Linked DNA regions of Homo sapiens: region 2 is linked to region 1. A link means that fine-mapping ties the variant in region 1 to the expression of a gene that starts in the linked region. Tissue or cell type: blood mononuclear cells. Region 1 holds a variant in brackets; the other region holds the start of a gene. All regions are shown on one strand. Distances are between the middles of the regions.

Region 1 (8,105 bases):
TCAAAGGTAGCATTTGAAAACTAAAAAGTTTACCATGTTTGTTTTTTTGCCAAAAAGCAAGAAGTAAACAAATAAAGATCAAACTTCAAAGTGGGGAAAGATATACTCCTGTCCATCCTCCCCCATTCATTTCAAGTACTAATTCATCCTGAATTTCAAATGTACTTTTCTCTGAAAAGCTATGCTAAATACTCTGTAGCAAACTTTTGTATAGAACATGGATATAAACATAGAACTTTCGAGTGGAAAGAGACTCCAGAGATCATCTAAGATTGGTTCCCCATGCGGGGAGGAGCTTCTAGCCCACCTTGCCCTTTCCTGCTCTTTAGAGTAGTGCCCAGATGGTTTAAGTGATTTGCTCAAGGTCAAGCATCAGAATCAACACTCAGGCCTCCTCACACATCATGCTACTTCCTCCAAAAATTACTTCTCCCCTCTGCTCCCCACTTCCACCTCTGCCCAAAAAAGGAGGAAAGAGAGAAGATCCATAAAGTCATAATGAATGATATCCAAAACATGCGTTAAATAAATAGACACCTTTCTGGTATGTGCCGCATGCCTCAATATGCATCCAGCTGTAGGATGATCACGTCTAAATAAGCCCAAGAGAAGTTTTGAAGTTCCCAGAATGAGAAAGTGTTTGCCCTCTTGTTTTAGTGGGTTTCAGTTTATTACTATCTAGTAATGCCGGATGGTGTCAGAAAGCACCCAACTCAGGCAGCATATCACAATACGAAATCTATTCTATGAAACAGAAATGTGGTAATAATTTTCAAAACATCAAAGTCTCTCTCTCTGAGTACACGAGATCCTTAAAACATTAAGAACACAATCCTTTGCCCCCTCTCCCTGTATTTCCTGTTAATTTCTTACTCTGAAATATTAACTGTTTCTAAGACAACTCAATCAAGAAGTCTTCATCATCGCCCCCTCACTACTGAAGCATATCATCTAAAAAATTAATTCAAGAACATAAAAGTCTTAAAGATAGCACCGGATTAATTAGCACGTGGAACAACAGAATGTCAACATGCTCAAGCAAATGCACAATTGCTGTTAACCTTCACTGAAATAATAGGGGAAAGGCTATAACTACTTTTGAGGATCATCATCTATTACTTTTAAAAGCTGCAGTATATTCTTAATAATAAATGGAACAGCACAATCATTCACTTTTCATACAACACACAGTTTTCCAGTCATTTACAATTCACCAGTTACACTCAAAAATCGCCCCCCCAACCCCCCAACCAACCACCACACCATCACTTCCACCTTTTATGAAAAGACAACAGTTTTAAGCCATTTAAAAAACAGAGAGAGAGAATCCTGGCAGAAAATAATACACAGCTGTGATAATATCGTGTTATTTTAAAATACCATAATATAGTTTTACTTTTAATAATAAAAGATAAAAAAGGAGCGTCTGTGAATAATTAGAGATTGCAGTCTGAAGCCGGTTACAGTCACTGCAATTGATAATAAACTGAAAACCCCTTGAGAGCAGGTAAATGCTTTGCAACCCTGACCCCCTCGCTCTCACATTACTTAACTACCCTTCGGTTCTTGCATTACATCACCATTCAAGCGATTGGTTCCTGCATTTTAACTCTCTCCCTGTCTCCTCCGATTAGGAGCGACACCGCAGCAAAGAAACTTCGCCCGAGTTTGCTCTTTCTCGCTTCGCTCTTTATTTGTGGCCCTTTTGCTCTGGTTGCTTTGGTTTGCTCTGCTTTTTTTTTTTTTTCTTTTTTCCTCCAACCCGGCCTCTGTTCAACTCATTCAGGTCTCTGTGCTAGAACAAAAACTCTGATCGAAGTGAAAAGAAATGCCTCTTCGGGCAAGAAGAGGAGCGGAGGGGCTGGGGAAAGAGGAGAAGGAAGAAGAGGAGAAACAAAGACGGGCAGAAAGGGAGAAGGGGGAGAAAATGAAGAGGAGGAGGAGGAGGACGAAGGCTCAAAAACAGAAGGCAGTAGGGGCAAAAAAAATCTATAAAATCAGGAGAAAAGAAAATAAAATTAAAAACAAACCTCATGGACATCACTGAGGCTGAATTCCCTCCTGAGGTGCAGAACATGAGAGCTCTGGAATGAGTGTGTGTAGAATTTGAGCCAAAGCTTAACTAGCTTGAGTGAGTCATATCCTTCCCATTTGATTCCAGGCCAAGCGATGATGTAATGTGCTGGCCCTTCTTTTGCGCCTAGCTCTGGCTCTCCCTCCGGCTGGGCTCTCGCTCACTTGCTCTCTTTCTCCTGGTCTCGCCCTCCTCCCCCTTCTCCTTTTTAGCTCAGTGCTAGTGAAGTCACCACTTAAATCTGGCAGAACTGAAGCAAAAACTTCAATGTAACCAAAACAGCCCCAGGCTGAGTTCCAGGCTCGGAGAGCCTTCGTGGTGCACTTGCCCTTAGAAACGGGTAAACAAAGGGGGAAACAGTGCCGCTGGGGATGGCCCTACAGCTGCCATCAGAGAGCTCCAAGAGGGACCCGGAGTTCTGCAGGCAGGGGTCAGCTGGTTCTGCTGGAAACAAAAAAAAAATACTGGTTAAAAAAAAAAAAAAAAAAGAGTGCCCTGTGTTTGGAGAAAGGGAAATAACATCAAGACACGTGTAGAGATGGGGAAGCAGGGAGTGAAAGATGGCAGGTTGGAAGGTCTGAGTGTGAAAAACTAACCTCAGTTAGCAGCTTGGGCTTTGGTTCAGAACCAGGTGACAGGGTTTCCATCGCCCAGGGCCCTTTTTTCCTGGAGCTGGATGGGATTTTCTGTTGCTGAATGCCAACCACCAGCCCTCCGGAGACTTCTCGCATCTGACCTCCCTGTCAGCGAGGGCAAAACCACTTCTGGTCCAAACACGTGCCCGTGTCTGGAGCCACCAAGGGCTGTGAAATCACAGTCACTTCTCCCTTGGCCCCTATGGGTCACCCTGTCAGGTGCTAAAGGAAAAAGACCCCAGCCACAAAACACAAAACTTGCCTTTCTGAGATTAGCACTCCACCCTCAGGTGAACCTTCCAAAGGAGAGGGAAGGAAGACAAGTTCTCCCTTAAAATGAAAGACAGGCTGTGCCCCCACAACTCAACTCGCTGGAGGGGGTGCTGGTGTGGGTGGGGCCGTCTGTGACTTTAAAGAGGAGAACAGACAGTATGTGTGTCTCTTTTTTAATTACAGAGTGAGGAAAAACAGCCTGGGGAGGTGGGGGCAGTCAAGCATGATCCTTCACAAATGACAGTGAAGCCTTTTTAATGGCTGAATTCTACCCCTCACTTCACACCTCCCCACTCAGGGCTCCACCACGACAATGACAACAGTCCAGACACTACTCTATTAGCAGGGCTTTTTAACCCCATCATCTCTCC[G/A]TTTTGCTATTTCTCCCCACACTTCATGTTTCCTTCAAAAAGAAAAAAGTAACATGAAAATGGGAAGTTCGCTAGAATTTTTTTTAAATACCACAAAAGCAGAAGAAAGGCATGAAGCTGCAATTTTTTTTTCCTTTTCCAAAAATGACCATGGCTTGTGCTACAGTCTATTGCCCCTAATGCCTTTTGTGGCCAATGAATCAGGTAGATAAGACAAACATTGTCTCTGCACGTTGCAAAGCACAGAGGATCTTGACTTCTAAACTGTGTTTTTGGAGAAATCTCTCAGCTTATTAAAGACGTCCACTGATGGAGGTCAGGGATATTCATCTGAATCCCCTGGAATTTAAATCACAGCTTCAGGGAGTGTTGCCGTACTCAGGGTGAAGAGTTAAAAAGCAATATTTGCCCAAGGGTCTCCAGGACCCTGGGGGTTGGGGTGGGGAAGTGCTTTCTCCAGCAAGCTGCCCTTTGGCTTGACATCCTCAATTGATGCTGATGCCACAGTAGCTCCGAGTGACACCTTTATCAAGGCAGGCAGCTCTGAATTAGAGGTGATCAGCCATAATTACAGCTGGCGCCACTGAAGCCTGTGGCCTGACAGCGGCAAATGTGGTTGTTATAAAGTTTGGTCCACCATGTCAGTGGCCTGTATAACTCATTTACGTCTGACTTGCCAAGCAGACATTGATTTTTCTTCTGCTAAGGGGAATAAATAAAACAAAATTTTCAATAACTTCTACAAGCCTTTACACTTCAAGGCAGGTTGGCAAGATTTTGCATAAGCTACTTTTTCCTTTTTAAATGAGCCATTGACCATCTTGGTTAATATCAAGCTATGGACTTTCACTTTCCCTTCCCTACCCCCCAAATCTCCCCTCCCCACTTTAGTTTTCTTATTTAAATGTTTTATTTATGTTACTATTTTTGGTGCAAAATGGATATGTGGTAGAGTTTTCCAAATTTACATCTTTTTGTAAGCTCAATGGGAAAATGTTCTCTGTAGGATTTTCCTTATACCACATTAGAGGGCCGGGGTGAATCCACTAGATACCAGGCTTCTGCTGTTTTTCAGTGACATAGGCAAAAGGGACCCTGTGCTTTAAATAGAGGTGATGTAAAGATGGCTTTCCTGTGCCTTGCTTGGGAAGTAACAAAGGAGATGATAGCTTCAGCCAATGCCGGGCACGGATCTCAGATGAGACCCGCCAGCATCATTGCTTCTGCCAGGAGGAGTAAGAGAACAAGAGGTTTGAAGGTGGCCAGTGTGCCTCTGATCAGGGAGTGACATCGCCAATGGGTACAGTGTTTCTAAAACCCAGACAAATGCCAAGGACCCAGAAATGTCTGGGTCTGATGATGACGCCGTTAAGCCACCAACGTGCCAGAACACTTCGACATCCCAATAAAACAACTTTGGAGTGCTGGCCTGAATTGAAATCAATTTCAGAGTTCAAAGGTCTGCATATTTACATTTGCACTTGTTGTTCGGGACATAACTATTCCCTCCTGCCCCTTCCAAATCAGGCATTCCACTGGCTGCTGGGTGCCTCCCCACTTGAAAAGAAGCCCTACTTTCCCATTTTCCTTCCTGTGAGCAGCTAAAGAGAGACAAGATCCTGTTCCCAAAAAGAAATGCCCCTCTGACTCAAGAGATTCCTTTTTCACCCATTTGGCCTTCTCCCCTACCCCATGTCCTAGCTGCTCCTCTGAAGAAGGGGGGCTTCGTAGATAGAAGTCATAAGATGCTGTAATTCCAGAGGGAGGCTTCTTAGAAGTAGCCCCCGGCCAACAGGCTAGGTCTCCAGATTAGCTGGCTTGCTCAGGAATGCTTACAACACCCTCCTTTGCAGAGCGTGTCATCCTTGGGGAGAGGGTGGTGGGTACCGCGCAGCTGTTCGGTGTAACTCACTCACACACTCCCAGCCCCTGATGAAATGTTCGGCTCCGAAGAAGTGGAAACCTTTGAGATTTGAGCTCAGAGTTCAGAATGCTTTTGGACTCTTTCCAAATAACCCAATAGAAAAGGCACAACTTGGATTGCAGGGATGGAGGGGCTCAACAGCCAACTAGAGTAGACCTTTTGTGTGCCTGGGTGAATTTCTGAGCTCAAACACGTTATGAGAAACATAGCAAATATGAGAAACAATGGAGATCCTTCCTAGAGAGAGCTGGGGTTTCCCCCCCCCCCCACTTTTAGGTTTGAATTTATTCTCCTCAAGGAAAAGTATATCATCTTCTTTCAAATGTTGTTTTTAAAATTTAACCCAAGATTTCTACAGTCCCGGTGGAGTTTGAGGGGCCAGATAATTTCAGAGTTAAATAAGCTGTAATGACTATCACATGTACCCAGCCATAAACCTAGTATTAAAAATTATTCAGAAAAAAGTGGCATCTCTTCCTTTTTTAATTTACAATAACCATCCAGGTGGTTTTCTAAGTCCTCCTTTGCAAATTGCTTCCAGTGAACCCTCTGGTCACAGACCACTGCACACCCACATGGTGTCATTCAGCATTCCCTTCGACCTGGGTGTCCCGTGTTTTCACAGTGGACAGAGGATGAGGGGCCGCCTAGGTGACCTGGTGCAGCATGCATCCTGAACCATGTGCAGGCAGGATTCACTGGCTTAAATTGTCAGCCCTGCTGAAGTCAGCTCCAGGTGCTCCCAGAGAGAAGACAAGGGAGTGATCTGCCCTTGGTGACTCCTGTCGTGTAACTACTGCACCTCCTATACCCCAACCCTGGCACTAAGTACCCTTAGGCAATTCACTGGCCTTTCCTGTGTCAAAACCTATTTGTAATTCACGGATGTGGCAATGCTGAATGTGTCTCAAACAAAGGAATGAATTTATAATGGTGGAGGCATCAGGAAACCTTTGGGGGTGGATATTAAGAGGTCACAAGAGCCATTTGATTAGCCCTAAAATATTGTCATCAATTCTGCTTCCTATAGTGTTTTTTCTCTAACTTCTTAAAATGTGCAAGTCATTGTACCACTTAAACCTAAACCAATGTCTGAAAGACCGTTGACACTCCTGGAATATTTGTTGAATAAATGAATGAGTGAATGAATGAATACAATCCTCAGCTCAGGCATTATCTTTTCCATGGTCTCCTTGCTGGGCTACCAGACTGGGATAAGGGTGGCCATTACTCTGTGCTCCTTTGGCGTCCTGAAGCAGATTGTATCCCAGCAATAAGCCAGCTATGGAGAGGATCTCTTCATGCTTGTCTTCTTCAGCAGCCATTTGCTTCTCCAGGGCAGAGACTGTGCTATACATCTTCATTTCCCTAGCACCTAGCACCTGGCCCATACATAGTAGGTCCCTAAGAAATGTGACTGGGACTGGGCGTGGTGGCATACATCTATAGTCCTGCTACTGGGGCTGAGGTGGAGGATCACTTGAGCCCAGGAGTTCAAGACTACAGTGAGGCATGATCGCACCACTGCACTCCAGGCTGGGAGACAGAGCAAGATTCTGTCTCTAATAATGATAATGATAATAATAGTAATAAATTAATTAAAGAAAAAGAAATGTAACTGAGCCTGAACTAGCGGCAACACAGGCTGCTCGGTCTTCCCTGAATATGTTGCCTCCTGAAAGTTCTTTTTCCTGTTTGTATTATTGCTCACACTTTTTATGCAGCTTCCTAAAGATCTGAAGCATCTAGAAAACCTATAATAAGAAAATCCTAGGAAATCTACTAGTCAGCCTTCTCCATCCCTACACTATACCTTTTCTCCCTGGAGGGCCTCAGATTCCTCTTGCTCCCTTTTTTTGGACCCCCACAGCAGGGATGGCAGAATGAGCACTCTGTGGTGGATGTCAGAGCAGCTGATCCTAGACTATTGTCACCAGCTTCCTACATGAGGCACCCAGGGAAATTGGAACTTGAGGTGAGAGCAGCTAAATATTCTCCTGTTGGGACTTCTTGCACAGTTGTTGAGGTGCCCTAAAAAAGGAGACACTGCCACCAGGACTTTATCATGTCCAAAGAAAGGTGATGTCAGTTCTAACCAATCTCTATGACTAGAGTGGGCACTACAGGAAGAACTCAAATAATGGTGGGGGAACAGGAGGTCCAATTTTTTTTTTTTTTTTTTGAGATAGGTTGATACAGTGTCTTGTTCTGTTGCCTAGGCTGGAGTGCAGTGGCATGATTTCAGTTCACTGTAGCCTTGACCTCCTGGGCTCAAATGATTCCCCCACCTCGGCCTTCTGAGTAGCTGGAACTACAGGTGTGCACCACCATGCTTGGCTAATTTTGTTTACATTTTGTAGAGACAAAGTCTCCCTATGTTGCCTGGGCTGGTCTTGAACTCTTGGACCCAAGTGATCTTCCCAGCTTGGCCTTCCAAAGTGCTGGGATTACAGGTGTGAGCCATAGTGCTCGGCCAAGGAGGTCCAAACTTTTGTGGGTAAAAGTTTATACGGGATTGGAGCCTAATGATGTTGTCAGACTAACTACACTGATTCATGTTCTGGTGTTGAGTGGAGCCAAGACAAGGCATAGTAGCTGATCAAGACTGGCTCAGAGCAGTTATGCTTGGGAGAGGTGGACAACCCAACTGATGATGTCCAAGAAAGAGGCCTTTCCTGGAGGCTCTGTGGGGAACCTTGGTTAAAGGAGATTATCAACCAAATTCCTACTTTCCCCTTTGACCAAGGGTGGTGACTGGACCAGTCCAGGTTGAAGCAAGTGAGGTGCCTAGGGTGCAAAATTTAAGGAGGTACTCACTCTCAGGTGCA
Region 2 (8,105 bases), 270 kb after region 1:
GTAGGTGCATTCAGGATTTCTATTTAGACATTGTTATTCCCCATCTTAAATACAGCACAGACTAAATATCATCTTAAATCAAATGTGTGGTGCTCTAGAGCCCTCTGTGTTGCATGCATGAATTTTTTTGGTTATGATTGGTCAAGTTTTGCCAGTCAAACCTCAAAGAACATACTTCCAGACTCAATTCACTTCTCGTCACCTCCAAACACACTCATATATATCCATCTGGAAAGATAATGTATTACAGACAGATCCTAGGCAAAGGTACACCTTCTAGAGTGAAAACATCACCCGTTTCTCTATTTGACAAAAAAGGTTATTTATTTTAACTTTAAATAATATTTCAGATCCCGTCCTCACAGATAATAGAGAAAAGACAGGTAGTAGAGAAAGTCACTGCCTTGTTCTTGAGACAGTCTTTCAGACCATTTTTAGTCCTGCCTGGTTTTTACTCTCAAATGAAATCTGGATGGTGTGGTTTTACAGGGTATGTCTCATAACAATGATGAAAAAAGGAGAATTTAAGTTAAAATTAATTAAGGAGGCCCTTATTAGAAAAAATAACATTGCAGATATTATATAAGAATGAATGAAATAGAAACTACAGTTTTTATGATTAAGGTGTTCATTCCAAAGATCTGATAAAAATTTGTCTTTGAAAGATTAGTCATCAAAAGGCTTGAAAAGAGTGAAGGATACAAAGTCATAGGTTATGCCCCATTCCTGACAAGGGCATTTATGGCAGGAGCACCCGACCTGGAGGCAGGGACCAGGCTTCTCAGCCTGGTTTGGCTCTCTCTAGCTCTGGGCCTTGGGTGAGCCAGGGGTCTCTTCTGTAAAATGAAAAATTGGTCTATCAATCCGAGGCCCTCCCCTAGCCCTACCATCCGTGTAAAGCCATAAGCCTTTGTAACTCACCATCAGAATCTCTAGGCCTAAAAGAACTCCCTCTAAAATCAGTTCTAGTCAAACGCCAGCCTGGTAGTTTTCAATCCTTGTTAAGGATTGAAATCCTAAAATCTTTTTAGGGTTAAGATCAGAAATGTAACCTTAAGGAAATAGAAGAAAGCAGCTGAAATACATATTTTTAAAGTGATAAACTGATTCTGATCTATTTCTCAGGGGGTGAGGGGGAAGGCAATACAGTGAACTTGGAAAAAAGAAATATTGAAATGTCAATATAATATCTTTTATGGGTTCAAGAATTTATCCTAAACTTTATCTTTTACTGTGACAGTCCCAGAGTCCTCAATAAGAGCTTCAAAAATTTTAGTGGGGTTTCTGGAAGAGTGCTATCACTATCTGGAAATTTCTAAAAGGCTTCTCTCTTTTTATAAAAAAAAAAATTCCTATGTTAAATCTATGATTTGTGATTCTCAACAATGGAATACTAATGGATACTCAAAAAACACTAATTGCTCATTTTTTTCCTAATTACGAAATGTAATAATTCTTTAGTGAAAACATTAAACATGATGTCATTTTTAAAGTGCCAGACTTTGTATTTAAAGCATTGCCACAAAATAGATAGCTTACTTATTTTACAAATAGCAACACAAAAAGGGTCTTCTGTGTCTTTAAGTCTGTTTAGCATATCTGAAAGTGCTTCTTCCTCACACTTAGATATTTAAGGCAATTGCCCCCCAGTTTATTACCTTATCTCAATTGTATAATTTTCTTAAATAGAATTCAGAGAAATAGTCATAGATTTAAATTTTTAAACACTAATTAAGCATTGGTTGATTCCCATAATACAGCTGGTAGTCAAAGTGGACAAGATAATGAATTGACTGAGATCACTGTTCCATCTTCATCCAAGAAAGCTGCCTCTAAAAAAAAAAAAGACCTTAAATTGCTGTAGAAATCCAATTTGTAAGAAGCAAAAGAAGCATATAGATGGGAAACACCAGCCAGGATCACATTAATTTTGTGACTAACTGCATTGCTTAGAAGAAGAAGAAGGAGAAGGAGAAGGAGAAGAAAGAAAAGATGACAAAAATAATAAGTCCACTCAAATCCCAATTTTAATCCAACAACATAACCAGAAGAAAATGAACTACAAATACAAAGTTCACATCTTAGTGATCTAGTGAACACTACACACCGACAAAATAATTTTTAGCTTAGTAAGAAGTAAACTCCAATGACAAGAAAATATTATAGGATTGTGATACCTCATTGCTAAAAAGTAGATTATAGTAAGAAATTGGGAGTCTAGGAACTTGCCATCATGGAAACTCCATGATTGATTGGTTTTGAATGTGCAGGTGTGGGAAACTGACAAATCATTGTAACAAAAATCTTAAACTTACTAGAATTGAAAATCTATGCAGGAAAAGTCTCTGTGACAAACTACCATTCATTTAGCCACCTATTCAAATAAAAGCTGTGACATAACAGAGATCTAGAAATAAGGGCATGGTTTCCAATTTTTTGTTGGAATGTTCTAATAAACTATCTTCTCAGGTATCAACTATATAAGGTCACGACTGACCGCTAATTGACAGGCAATTTATCGGCACCAGCAATTTACATTAAAAATAGTGGGCTTGGAGATATTTTCAAATATGTTTACTATGAGTTAAGTTGAAAAATAAAAACCACTATAATCAGTAAGGATTTAAAAATAAGAGATCCATATAAAATGCTATAAGCAAAGGAAAATGAGAAACATTTCTGGGGAGACACAAGTGAGTTTTATTATACTTCTTCTTTTAAGTTTTAGAACTAAAGTAATAGTTGATATTCAACCCATAGAATCATCCTTCAGGGGCATACACATCTAGGTTTGAATGCGGAAAACTGTTTTATTGTTTTTTTTTAATTTTTAGGTTTCTTTTTCAAGAACTTTCTTATTAAAACTTAAATACTTATTGAAGTGATTCATGAAACCTCACAGAAAGGGGAATTCATGCTTGACACATTACTTAACATGCTCCATAGCTTCCCCACTGTAGTTCATATGCTTCTGAACATATTTTACCTGGGAAATAATAGTCTTATTCACACACACACACACACACACACACACACACACATCCTTCCACATAAAATGCTATAAGTCCCAGGAAACTGACAAAAGCAACATTAAAATTTTGTGCAAAATCTAAACTCCATTTCTGAATTCCATCTATGAAAATACAACATTGGTTCTATTTAACTAAGTGCAAAGTTTTCTCTCTGTTTAATATGCATAATAAACATCATCCTTACCATTATCTGTAGAATAAAAGCAGCAACGTGTTGCTTCCTGCAGTCACCAAATCAAGTTTTTTCTTCCTTTCTTTCTAGTAACTTCTGTTTCACCAGCAAGATTAGGAAGAAAATAAGTCTTGAGTATTTGCCTCAGTATTTCAGACCAGAAGATAGTGAAACTAGCTTTTAGTAAAAAGAACAGGTCTGGTATTTTACAATTACTTCTGCAACCCAGAGGTACCTCCTAGACTCTGGTACCTCCCTCGTTCTCTAAGTTTCTTTTAGTAATGAGACTAATTTTTCCAGTAGTCTTGAACTCCCTAGATTTAACTGACATGGAAAATGTGACTAAAAATTTGTGGAACTGTCTAGCCTCCAACCCTACACAGAATCAACTTTGTTGTAAATGTTGAAGAACACCTCGCAAGCAGCTACATGCTCAGTTTATACTCCTGCGCTACGCAGCAGAGAACACCAAATAACAGTGCGCCATCTAGTTAGCAAGCTGCAATCTCCATGCTAGAAGGGGGGACACTTTCAAACCCTGGGAGTTAAGAACTTGTCAGGGTTCAGCTGCTCTAAAGGTCCAATTGTTTGTTTAAATAAAAAAAAATATCGCTACTGAGATAATCCACATCTAGTGGATATGGGAAAATTTAGGTTATAATGGCACTACAAACTTTTACATCTAACTTTGATTTACAAGATAAAAGCAAGTTTTAAATTAAAAGGGCTTTCTGTTAATAGAGCTTATTATTCTGAAGACGGGAATGATTTTCTTCGAAAGTTGTCCCTGGGTGCATGCCTATTATCTTTGCTTTTCCCCTTCCACTAATGAGCATTTATCTAAAGAGCCTGTTAATCCTCTGATGTGTGCTTCTGGTCAGAGGTAACAGTTTGAATAAAACCACTAATCACTGATCACTAAATCACTGATCATTAATCACACTTTCCAGTGCCCATGACTGGGCCATTTTTTTTCCTTTAAGTCTATGCATCACAAACAAGAAGTTCAACATTTTCGATGCACATATATTGTGTGGAGGTTACACTATTTCATCTCTAGATGTGAATAAATACTAAATCCTGCCACAGACTTGGGGAAGGATGTCAATTAGACCCCAGACAGGAGTTTCACAAATGCCTACCCTACAGCATGGCTTTCGCTTTGAAGAAAGTAGATCTAATTATAAGAAAACATGTGTTCTTCAAGAAATTCCCACATATTTGCAATATAAACTTTTCTTTATTTAGTTTTCACCAACTCCAAATCAGGGACCACTCCAATCCCCTCTCTCCCTCTATCCAAAACTCTGTTAATACTTTTTTAAATTTAATTTCTGCTGCACACCTCCCTCACGCCCCCACCCCCCCACCCCCCACACCGAGGGTTCTTTTTACTTTGATCCCTTGCAACAAGTCATACACAGGGTCTTTATTTCAACTGCCAGATACGGAGGTTCTGACTCAGTTCAATGACTTACGTATTCGACTTCCTCTTTCAACATAGAAACTTAAGGTTAAGAGCTAGAAACTAACGCACGCAGCAATTTATTGTATGGAAGTTTAGGTTCAACGACTCACATTCCCTCACTTTGGAAATGAAACGTTTAGTCTTGATCCTTTCAGCTAAACCTGATTTTGTCAGCATCCCTCTTCTGCTAAAGGGCAGGCACTACGTAAAGTGAAATACTTTGTTTGCAGTGGGTGTATTGCTTTCCTAAGTCACCACCACGAGGACAGAGTATTATCATAACGCTTGCAAACATTTCCTGATTTGCCTTTTCTATCAGGACTAAGCATTTTCGCCCTAGAGGAGAAGGCTTACTGGTGCCTTTCTTAAATAATACAAAAGGGCGGATTGCGCGCTGATCAGGTACAGTGGTCCCCTCAGACCCCAGAAGCTTTTACCCACACTCCAGGGACCGTGCTCGCCCCAGGGAAAGCTGTAAAAAGGCGGGGGCGGGGCTAGAGTGATAACGGTGTAGACGGGGGAGTGGTGGAGAGGGAGGGGCTGGGAAGAGAGGGCAATAAAGATGCCCAGGGAGCCGGCGATTGCACGAGTGTGTTGTGGGGAGGGTAGGGGGATGCAAAGCAGAGTTGCTTTGTCAGCATTCTAAGCTCCTGAACCCTTGAGGAGCTCAAGCCGTTAATCAAACACTTACTGGCCTGCAGAATGACGTAATGGACCTGTATCCAGTCTTTATTCCTTGACACATGTCAGAGAAGGAGGGAAAAATAAAAATCAAACACATTCTGCAGACTGACAACGAAATATACAAGTAGCCCGCTCCAGTCCCCGGCCTTGAGCAAGCATCAAGTGGGGGCGGCACCGGTCCAGGGAAAGTTGGGGATGGGGGTGAGAGTGTGGACAAGGTCTAGGGCTTTATCTACCAGACGCCCCTTAAAAATAAATCTATGGCAAAGAAGAAGCGGGATGCAGCTGCTGAGAGAAAACATCTCCTTGGTTCCTTCCTTCGCATCTTGCCCCTCTAAGAACTTCGTGAAAAGTTCAAGTGATTCTGCCGAGAATCTGCCGCAGGGGGAGACTCCGCCGCCAGGTCTTGGGAATTGCCTGGGCGCCGCCAAAGCTCGAGCCGGAGCTGTCATTTGGGGCAGCGGCCGGGAAGAGGTAACGATGCCAGCAAGAAAGCAGCGGAGGCAGGAGGCGGCCGGAGGAGTGGACTGGAGCGGACGGAGCCTCGCCGCTCTCCAGCCCGGAGCGCCTGGAGCGAAAGCCAAGCGCCCTCCGAGGGCGACCTCCCCTCCCCGGGCGCGCGCCCACCCGCTGCAGCCGGCAGCCCGGCGGGAGAGGTGGCAGCTGCAGCTCCGCACCGGGGAGAGCGAGCCCCCTGCGCGCGCGCCCACCCGCCCCCTAGGTGACCCGGCGTCCTCGCCGCGCCCGCTGGAAGTTTGCAAACTTTCTCCGGGGGTTCCGCCGCCACGCTGGGAAGCTGGGGACGCGGGGGGAGGTTCCTGGCTCGCCGTCTCCGCTGCCGCTTGACCGCACTTCTGGAGGGCTCCGCACCTTGCCAGGTCTCTGGAGGCAAACACACACCCCCGATTCATAACTGGTCCCCGCGTCAGGGGACTCGCGCGCTCCCACACACGCACGCACGCCGGGCGGACTCGGCGCCGGCTCCACGTTAGCATCCCTCCAGGCGCGCGGCGCGGCGGCCACCGAGCGCTCCGGCACTCACGCGGCGCGGGGTCTCTAGGGTGGCCTCAGGACACAGCCGAATTCCACAGTCTACCAGCACTCGGGGCCGGACTTCCCTCTGGTCCGCCAAAATGTTTACAAACACAGATCACCCTCCAGAAAAAAATGCATCGCATCTTCCCTACTCCTTGCCCTGTGACCTGCCCACTGGACCAAGTAACCTCGCGGCTGCTGCCGAGAACCAACCCCTGCAAACAAGTACACTCCCGAGATGGCTCCTGCGGCAAGTGCAACAAAAGTGGCTAAATGCAAAAGCCCCAGAAGTGGCCGAGCCGTATTTTTAGGAACTTACCAAACAAGTGTGGAGAAGGCAAGAGCGGAGCCCGGGTGAAGGGACCACGTTGGACTGAGCAAAGATTACAATACATTCTATTTAGAGTGCATTACATCACCCCCCCGGTGACGTCACGTGGGATTCCTGAACTTCTAAATCATTGCGGTCCGCTGGGGAGGGACGGAGCGAGGGGCGGGGCCGGCGCGTCGAGGGGGCAGGCCCCGCCCCGGTCCCGCCCCGACCCCGCCCCGCCCGCGCGGACCCTGGTGCACCCGCCCGGGAGCGGCAGCGGCGGGGGCGACTGCGCAAGCAACAGCTTGCAGAGCCCAGCGCCGTGTGACACGGCTCCCTGACATTAGTGGTGTGAGTCAGCTTGGAAACAATCCTTATGGTTTCAGACAAGACCACGGAGGAGGCGCGGGCGTGGGCTCTTCTGCGGGGAGGGCCTGATGGGGTTTGAAAGGTGTAGGGATGGGGGTAGGGGAGAGGTGGGGAGGGGGATGCTGAAGGATGTGGGAAAAGACTTTGCAAACAGAAATGCAGGACGCTCCTCCCTCCCCCACCGGAGGATGTCCAGCTCCTTTTTGCTTGCGACAGTCATGACCTCATTTCAGTGCTCCCTGCATCCTGGCTTTTCAGAGCACTCACTTGTCACCCCTTCTTCACCGCCCCCTCATCTCACCTCCTCCAGGAGAATAACTTCCTTATGGTGCACACTCTCATGAAATACACAGCCCCACCCTTCGCGGGACCCCTGCTTCATGCGTCTGAGAAGCTGTAGGGAGAGTTGCTCCTAAGGCGAAAGGTGAATCACAGCTAGAGCCAAGTGATGAGCCTGATTTAGACACGGCGTCAGAGCCGAAAGGGCCCTTGGCTGTCACTTCCAGAGCCTCTTCGGTAACTGGCCCAAGCTCACGGGCTGGGGAGCGGCAGAGCCAGGGCCAGACTGCAGGATCCGGGCGCCTGGTCTGCAGCGAGAGGAGCCTGGCGTCTCCAGTATCCGGCCGTCACCATCACTGTCACCATCCCCCTGCTGAATTTCCTTTCAGAAGTTCTCCCTTTGAGTAGGATTCAAAGAGAAGGCATAGGCTAAATCCAGCCCGATTCTAGACGACCAATGCCAACCTCGCAGCCCCTCACACCTTACAAAGCGCTTGCGACCACGTGATTTCCCTTGTTTCTCACACCAACCCGGGTACCAGAAGTAGGACAGGTATTATAATTATTCCCATTCTACAGGTGAGCTAAGGCAGACACCAGAAGGTTGGGGGCTGGCCTGAGATCACTTGATGAGCAAGGGGTGGCACTGGGCCCAACTCAATCCCTGTTTTCAAGCCCAGATCCCAACTGGGCTCCTTCATAGAGCCAGGGGTAAGCATTCCCTTCTTGTGGGTTATTGGTGGTTGGAACCTC

What was found. PIP is the estimated chance that this variant, and not a neighbour inherited with it, causes the effect.
Region 2: CREB5 starts here. The variant in region 1 is fine-mapped to the expression of CREB5 in blood mononuclear cells (TOPMed, PIP above 0.99). The same link has a PIP of 0.9 or more in monocytes.

Annotation. Positions count from the first base shown.
Region 1 is chr7:28,680,123-28,688,227 of GRCh38, reverse strand. All of the region lies in intron 5 of CREB5 (cAMP responsive element binding protein 5), which reads right to left. Among named protein-coding and RNA genes, the nearest start is that of CREB5, 270 kb to the right of the region's middle. RefSeq lists enhancers at 2,301-2,809, 3,026-3,075 and a silencer at 2,748-2,917. The variant G/A (reference allele first, on the strand shown) is at 3,354.
Region 2 is chr7:28,408,029-28,416,133 of GRCh38, reverse strand. It overlaps CREB5 (cAMP responsive element binding protein 5), which reads right to left and starts at 3,616. Exons shown (of 11, transcript NM_182898.4): 1 at 3,217-3,616. The coding sequence starts at 3,219. RefSeq lists an enhancer at 3,530-3,619 and silencers at 6,892-6,961, 6,930-7,224.